Homo sapiens: one gene and its partner. The protein of the gene in region 2 purifies or fractionates together with the protein of the main gene of each other region. This does not show direct contact. Each region holds a gene or a part of one and is shown on either strand. Other genes may lie near its edges.

What was found.
Region 1: the proteins of LRTM1 (region 2) and GNPDA2 purify together in Homo sapiens (affinity purification with mass spectrometry; one large-scale study listed by BioGRID and IntAct). This does not show direct contact.

Annotation. Positions count from the first base shown.
Region 1 is NC_000004.12:44,719,997-44,723,822, forward strand, and holds part of GNPDA2 (glucosamine-6-phosphate deaminase 2), read right to left. Parts: intron 2,247-3,826; 5' UTR 2,212-2,246; coding exon 2,088-2,211; intron 1-2,087. UniProt on the Homo sapiens protein: Catalyzes the reversible conversion of alpha-D-glucosamine 6-phosphate (GlcN-6P) into beta-D-fructose 6-phosphate (Fru-6P) and ammonium ion, a regulatory reaction step in de novo uridine diphosphate-N-acetyl-alpha-D-glucosamine (UDP-GlcNAc) biosynthesis via hexosamine pathway.
Region 2 is NC_000003.12:54,917,825-54,921,650, forward strand, and holds the end of LRTM1 (leucine-rich repeat and transmembrane domain-containing protein 1 isoform 1 precursor), read right to left. Parts: intron 1,069-3,826; coding exon 635-1,068; 3' UTR 407-634; downstream 1-406.

The DNA of each region.
Region 1 (3,826 bases), on a different chromosome or scaffold from region 2:
GTATTGCAGAACATCAAATAAAAAAGACTACAATCTTGCGAGTTGGAAGAACAATAAAAGAAAATGGCATTTCAATTCAGTCTTGATTAAGGGATACACTTTCAACAAAGAGGAAACTAACTCAGAGCAGAGAAAAGATGGAGCGGGAGGTTCAACGATGACATCTGTCTACCATGTGGCTAGATGCTGCGCTAATGTTTTTATATATTACCTCACATAAAGCTCACAATCTTGAGAAACTGGCATTATCTTTCCCATTTTGAAGACAAAATAACTGGGTCAAAAAGATTAAGGAATTTGCCAAATGTCATATGGCTGTGAAACCAGGGATTCCAATCTAGATAGGTCTGGTGCCAGAGTTCATATAGATTCCATTAAATAACATGCTAGGAATATGAGTGAAAGCAAAGCAAAGCAAAGCAGCCAGCAACTTCAAGCCTATTCTTGAACTGCAAGCAGTCAAATATGCCTAGCCCAGTTCTGTGTAAGGAGATGGTGGGAATAAGTTTTGGGAAGCAGATCAGGTTCACAGCATGCAGGCCTTTAAATGTCAAGCTCATTAAGGTCACGTGAGTAAATATAAAATTGAACAGATATTGCCCAGAAATTGCGCTTGATAGGGAGATAATTACAATGCAGCCTGGTACAAGCAATTACCGACATGTATGTTCAAGTCTCAGAAGCAGTGGGGGAAGAGGACATAATTAACTTGTCGATGGTCAATGAAGGAGAGTAATGGAAAATTTCAACAAGGTTTTCCAGAGATCCTCACTTGGCAGGTATATTACTAGCAGTTATACTACCCAAAATAAAGCAAACGTTGTAGATCTAAATACACAAAAAGATGTTTAGCACTGCTGACATTTAAGACTAAGTCTTTCTGTCCCCACTCAAATTACTGTTTTTTTCTGCATCATAATTAACACAATGTTATTAACAGAGGTAGGCTGAGTGTAATGAAGGGTAACAGTATAGAAACTATACAGAAACCACGTTCAACCCCAAGGGGTCACATATCAGAACTGAGGGTGCTGGGGGTGTAGTACTGGTGTGTCCAGTGAAAAAAAAAAAACCCTTTTGCCATTCTCACCAAGATCTACTGCCCTGGACCAAAAGAGAAAAAGCAAAACAAAACAATCAACTTGAAGAGTACCATTCACGGAAATTACTCAAGTGGGAAAAAATTACAATTGTAGTTTTTATGTAATTACCATGTATGAGGGGAGGAGCTGGAGAAAACAGTCTGTTTAAATAAAACACACGGGAACTATAAATTTATAGACTACAGTATACAAGGGACTTACACATACACTATCTTAGCTGAATCTCAAAACAGCATCTTAAGTTATTATCCTTATCTTTCTTATAGGTAAGGAAACCAAGGCTCAGGGGTATAGAACAAATGCCTTGTAGTCAATAAGGAGCAACTTTAGTTCCAGGTCTAACACTCTGTGAAAATCATGGGTCAAATAAAGTGCCATAAGATCAAATGACACCACCTAGTCGTTTTTTAAGAGAATGCTTAATGGAAAACTGAATTCAATAAAATATGTAATTACTGTGATGAAGATATATTTTTCACTTGTAATACATCTATAATAGAAGAAGCAAATAGTAAAAGGCTAATAAACATTATATAATATATAATTTATAACTTCTATATTAATAAGGATTTATAAGGCAGGTGAAGTTAAATTAAGAGGCAACAGTACATACCTTAGGTACCTCTTAATGATTAATAAGAAAGCCAATCAACTAAAAACTGGTATGAATGGTAAAAGCAATGTTCCCCAAAACAAAGGACTACTAGAAAAATGTACAAAAAATATGAACAACACTTAAGTTACAATATTTCCTATTGCATTTTGGAGTGACAGGTGAGACTAAATTTTGGCACAAGAACTAGTAACACATTGTAGATAGTAGATTTTATATATATGCATTTTTCTGGCCTTTTATACTATGATGTTCAATTAGTGACATGCCAATAAATGAATGGGGAAAGTATCTTAAAAGAAACCCTTCAATTCCATCAGAATTAAATTTAGATAATATCAGAATATAAAATGGAAAAAGTAGTTAATTACCTGTTGGTAAACCCAGTGTAAAATATCTGTCCTGTCCAGGTTTGAACTGAATGATGCGATTACAGATGTATTTGGCTGCCCATTCACTAGCCAAGTCATAGTTATCAAGAATTACAAGCCTCATTACGGTGACGCACAGCTTCCAGAACAAGTTCAAACCTGAGAAAAGTCCATTGTAGAACACTTTACATAATAAACAGATAATTTAAATTCAGTAACTTTTTAAAAGATGTAAATAATAAATAGAGCACTGAAACAGAATATACTGATGATTTTTAAAAGTACATTACTGAAGAAGGACATGCACATATACAATCTGAATTTAAAAAATAGTAATAGCTGTTCTCTTTTGAGCAGACACTGAGTTTAAGGCAGTGGGCTAGGTCATTTAAGTATAGTTAGCCTTCTGTGGATTCCATATTCGAGGATTCAGCCAACCAAGAACTGAAAATATTTAGGGGAAAAAGATGTTTGCATCTGTATTAAACAGGTACAGACTTTTTTTTGTCATTATTCCCTAAACAATACAGTATAACAACTATTTACACAGTATTTACATTGTATTAGGTATTATAAGTAATCTAGAGATAAAGTATATGGGAGTATGGGTGCAGGTGATATGCAAGTACTATGTCATACAATATGAGGGACTTAAGCATCTGTGGATTTTGGTATCTGAAGGGGGATCCTAGAATCAATCCCCAACAGATACTAGGGACAAGTGTACATATTTTAATCCTTACAACCATCTTGTGAAGTAAATAAAATGCCCAGTTATAGATGAGGAAATGGACTCACATAATTTGACTAAGGTCACACAGGTAGTAAGCAACAAGGTCAGAATTCAAATTATAACAATAGGATCACACTAGACATGTTATTTTTAATAAGAGAATTCAACAGAAGAAAAAGAAAACAAAGTGAACTAAATAAACTGCTCATCTCTGGAGGAGAAATTTCTTGACAAAAAGCAATTTTAGTTCCTCAAAAATTATTCTAAAATTAAGAAAAATTATTATACGTATATTAAGAGATCGGAGTCACTTAAAAGCTACATAATTCCATTTTACACAATGTAGGTTGACTTATACCATGAAAGATGTGGAAATCAGCATTCTTACAGTAACTCACAGCTTCTGTTATCTGTAAGACATATTGTTTTCCTTTTTTTTAAAAAAATGGTATAAATTTAAGGGGTACAAATGCAATTTTGTTACATGGATATATTATTTAGTGACTAGGTCTGGGGTTTTGGTGTATCTATCACCTGAATAATGTACAATGATCCTAGCAATTTCTCATCATCTACCCACTCCTACTCCCCAACCCTTCTAAGCCTCTAATATCAGTCTACTTTCCATCACCACGTGTACACATTATTTAACTCCCACTTGTAAGTGAGAACATGTGGTATTTTTCTTTCTATTTGGGAGTTGTTTCACTTAAGATGATGGCCTCCAGTTACTGCAAAGGACATGATTTCATTTTCAATGGCTGAATTTCGCGGTGTATATATATACCACATTTTCTTTATCCAATCATTCACTGATGGACACTCAGGTTGATTTCTTATCTTTGCTACTGTTGTTATTGGAAGGAAGGTCATGAGTGTGAGGTGTCCAGTTCCTTGGCATTTTGAACAAAGAACTGCACAAAAGGAACGAAACACAGGAATGAAGCAGCGAAAGCAGGGATACTGAAGCAAGAAAGCACCCCATGGGGTGGGAGTGGGCCCAAGC
Region 2 (3,826 bases):
TCTTCTTCCTCTGAGGCCTAGAAAGCCCCAAATGGTTTTCTGATTTAGAAAATGAAATAGACTTTGACTCTTGTGGCAAGCTATGAAATTCCCAACCAACAGCTTCCACTAAATTTATAACATATACAACATCTAAAAGTATCACTGATCTAGCATGAACTCGAATTATAGAGGCATTCAATGCCCATCGGGTAAGATCACCAGCCTCTTCCCAAGCACTCAAAATTGGGCAGTTTTCCAGTGGACCATAAAGCTCCCAGGAATGCTGATTGGCATGTGTGTTTGAATTTCTGGTGCTTTGTAAAAGGAACTTAATCCACAGAAGAGTACCTGGAAGAGATGGCATCTTCCCTTTCTCTGTGTGTGTCTTACCCCCACATAGAATCGTCGTAATAACTTCCCAGGCCCAGAGCACAAGTATCATCTTTATTTTACCTATAGTATTTTAAAAATCGCAACATAAATTCCTCCCCAGAAATATTTTTTACAGACACATCTTTTTTTTTTCTTTTTTTTTTTTTTTTTTTTTTTGTCTTTTGGCAAAAGCAAAATCAGACTAACAGGAAACACATCAGCCCTACTCAGACACTATCTTCTGGCCTGCAATGACCAATCCTATTTGAGACAAAAGCTCTCAGGCTGGTGAGCTGTCAAATCGCTCTTTTTCTTCCACCTTCCCAGGATCATTGGTTTGAGCCAAGGGTCCCCCATGGTACTGGGCTGTGATTGCCGCATAGGTGCAGCCATAGATGGCAGCTGCCAACATCATGAGACACACAATCCCACACACAACGCCAGTGATGATGACAGTGGCAATGGCATGACGCAGGTTGGCCGGCCTTGGCTTGGGTTTGAGCTCGCACTCCAAGAGTTCTCGCTCCCCCGCGTTGTGGTTCTCAGGAGGCCTCAGGACCACACCGTGGGCAGAGCCGGGCCACTGAGCCTGCGAGGACACTGGATCAGGAGCAGGAAGAGGGCAGGGCTGGTACAGCTCATGAGGGATCCTAAGGAGGTCCTTTCCCTTCCAGGTGTCTGGTGATTCACAGATGATGCCGTCTGTTAGTCCCCCTTTAAAAAACAAAAGCAAAGAACAATAACAAAGCCTTGATACAACAGAGTTCCAAAATCCTCTGCCTGCAAAAACTTAGGCAGATGGAATTTATGAAGTACCTTTTTTTTTTTTAAATCCTGGAGTCAAAGAATTTAACAACCATATTTTATGATTTTAGGATTCCTAAATTGGCTAAATACTAAAAATGCCACACACTAAATTGGCAATTACTTATGACCAAGAATTCATTAGAAGCCCAGTAACCTTCATGTTCTCTAAATGCTCAGAGAAAACAATGCAAAAGCTGACAAGAAGGCACGCTGGGGGCCGATGGTGAGGGCACAGCTGCCCACTGCATTCGTGCCACGCATGGTCCTAGTGAGCCCCACAGACAAGAAAACTTTTGTACCAGATTCCCATTGAAAATCTAAGGAAAAAATAAAATAAATGTGCATTGTTGTGATGTTATGTGTTTATTACAAAGATCCTGTGTGTCTCAACACTGTTCAGTGATGCCAAATGGAGAGGTGGAATGGTCTTGGAGTGATCTGTGGATTTGACAATACTGGAAGTTTAGTTCCTGGAATTCGGTACCATGAATGTGTCTCCTCAGGCCTCAGAACATTTACGGCTTTGAATACTGAACTTTCCAGTGGGTTATTAAACCCAGTTTCCATTACCTGTAAGGTGATTGATATCCTCAGGTGTGTAGACTGCTGTTGGTCGGGGGAATTTGGGTGGTCGGTCATTCTTTCCTAGAGAGAGCCCTGAGCTAGCAGACTGAAGTCTAGTCTAGTGTGACCACTGATTTACTCTTTGACTTTGGGAAAATGTGCTTCGCTGACTTAATTTTCTGCCATGAAAACATGCTATTTGTATCCAACTTGATGGTTTACAAAGCACTGTTAGATAAGTCCTAATACTCCACTCTTGTAGGTAACTCTTGTCCAGACTCACAGAGGTCACGAGTGGATGAAACAACATCCAAACCCAGTTCTCCATGCTCAGTCCAAGTTTTTTCCACTACACTCGCTGCCTCGCCACATCCTCCTCTCAGGAGCGTTGTGAGGTCAGAGGAGTGGGCAGGATGGCCCTCGGCACTGTCTGCTAGGAAGCCTTTTGATTGGACAGAACTGCCCCATGACCTGCACCTTGGCCCTCTCAGGCTGCCATAAGCACCTCCCCTAGGCCAGCCGAAAAGACTGGCACTGCAGTTAGCAAAGTTAGATTGGAGGAGATTCTTAGTACACACAGTAAGTGAATTAGGAAATTATACCAGAAAGACATATGTAGAGGGCATCACTTCAACATTATTAGCACCCTCCATTGCATGGCACTTCAGAGTTTTAGGAATGCTTTCACATTTACTCTCTCTAAGCTTACTACAAGATAAGTCATAAGTGGCCCTGTAAGTAGATAGGGCCTATCTTGCAGTGCAAGGATTATCAGGTGGCCCCAACACACCAGGGTGAGTGGCAGTGGCAAAATTCAACCCATGTCCTTTTTGTTGCCACTGCTTAAAACTGAATCACCCACCACCAGAGTGTCTTGGGTTCCTCCTGGCTTCTCTAGCAATCCTTTGAGGAAACAGTCCTCACCCTAAAGCAGAAAGATAAAAGGGGAATTTCTTCCTTTTTTGAGCCACTGATTTTCCTGAGGCCAGAGGTTCAGAGCAGCTGCTCCAGATGAGTTCAAAGTGCCATTGAGATTAAGGATTCTTGCCTCATGGACCATTTCATTCCTCTGCACCTGACCATAGGAGCCTCTGCCAGGAAGTTGGTTGCAAGACAAAAAGGTCAGAGAGACAGAAATGAAGTGATGGGGCTTTGAGAAGTAGTCGTGATATTTAATCCAGCCAGAGAGCATGGAGACTTCTATCAGGGGAAGCAAGACCACCTGCCAGGGGGATGGACAGGTTCATCAGCTGACTTCCACCTTGACTAGGGTGGTTTACCCAATCACCCCAGACTTAAGAACTGTGTTTCTCCAGTTCCAGACTTTCTGTTGTTCGGTATTAAGGTGGGAGCCACAGCCTCTGGACCCAGAGCCAAGGAAATACCCAGACTGGAGCCTGGGACATAGCTGGAAGGCAGGGGCTATGGCTGCCAAATGCTCTGTGGTCTCCTGTGCAGGTGATCCTCAGCCGGGATGCAACTCCCACTCTCCACCATTTCATGGGCCATGACCCCCTCGTCAAATCTGCTGATTACAGCTTGAGGGTCCCACATCCTTCTAGATTAATGTAACTGACAATGCAAGAAGCTCCAGCTTGCCAAGCACTCATTGTTCTCTATCTGATCACTAGTAGCTCTTCACCTCTGTCTTGGGAGAAACTAGATTCAAATCTTGAGTCTGAACATTACGTAGCTGTGCAGCCGTGAAAAACTCCCTTGACCACGTTGTGCCTCTGCTTGCTCATCTGGAAAGTGGGAGATGAGGATAATTAAAATTCACTTCCCAAGATTGCTCTGAGGACTCAGTTGGATAAAATATATCAAGTATTTAGCATAATACCTAGCTCAGAGTAAATGTTTAGTGAAGTGAAGATGACTTGTTTACTAGTAAATAGAGAGAAATATTAATCATACAATCTGTGTGCATATTTCTTTGGAGGAGATATTATTATGTATTCACCAAAGCACATCTTTTTGCTCTTAGGCCAGCAGGAAGACTAAATTTTCCCACTTTTTGTGGTCTATTTGAGGCCATGTGATTGAATTCTGGACAATGGAATTCAATTAATTGAATTAATTAATGCCACCTCCAGGCCATAAA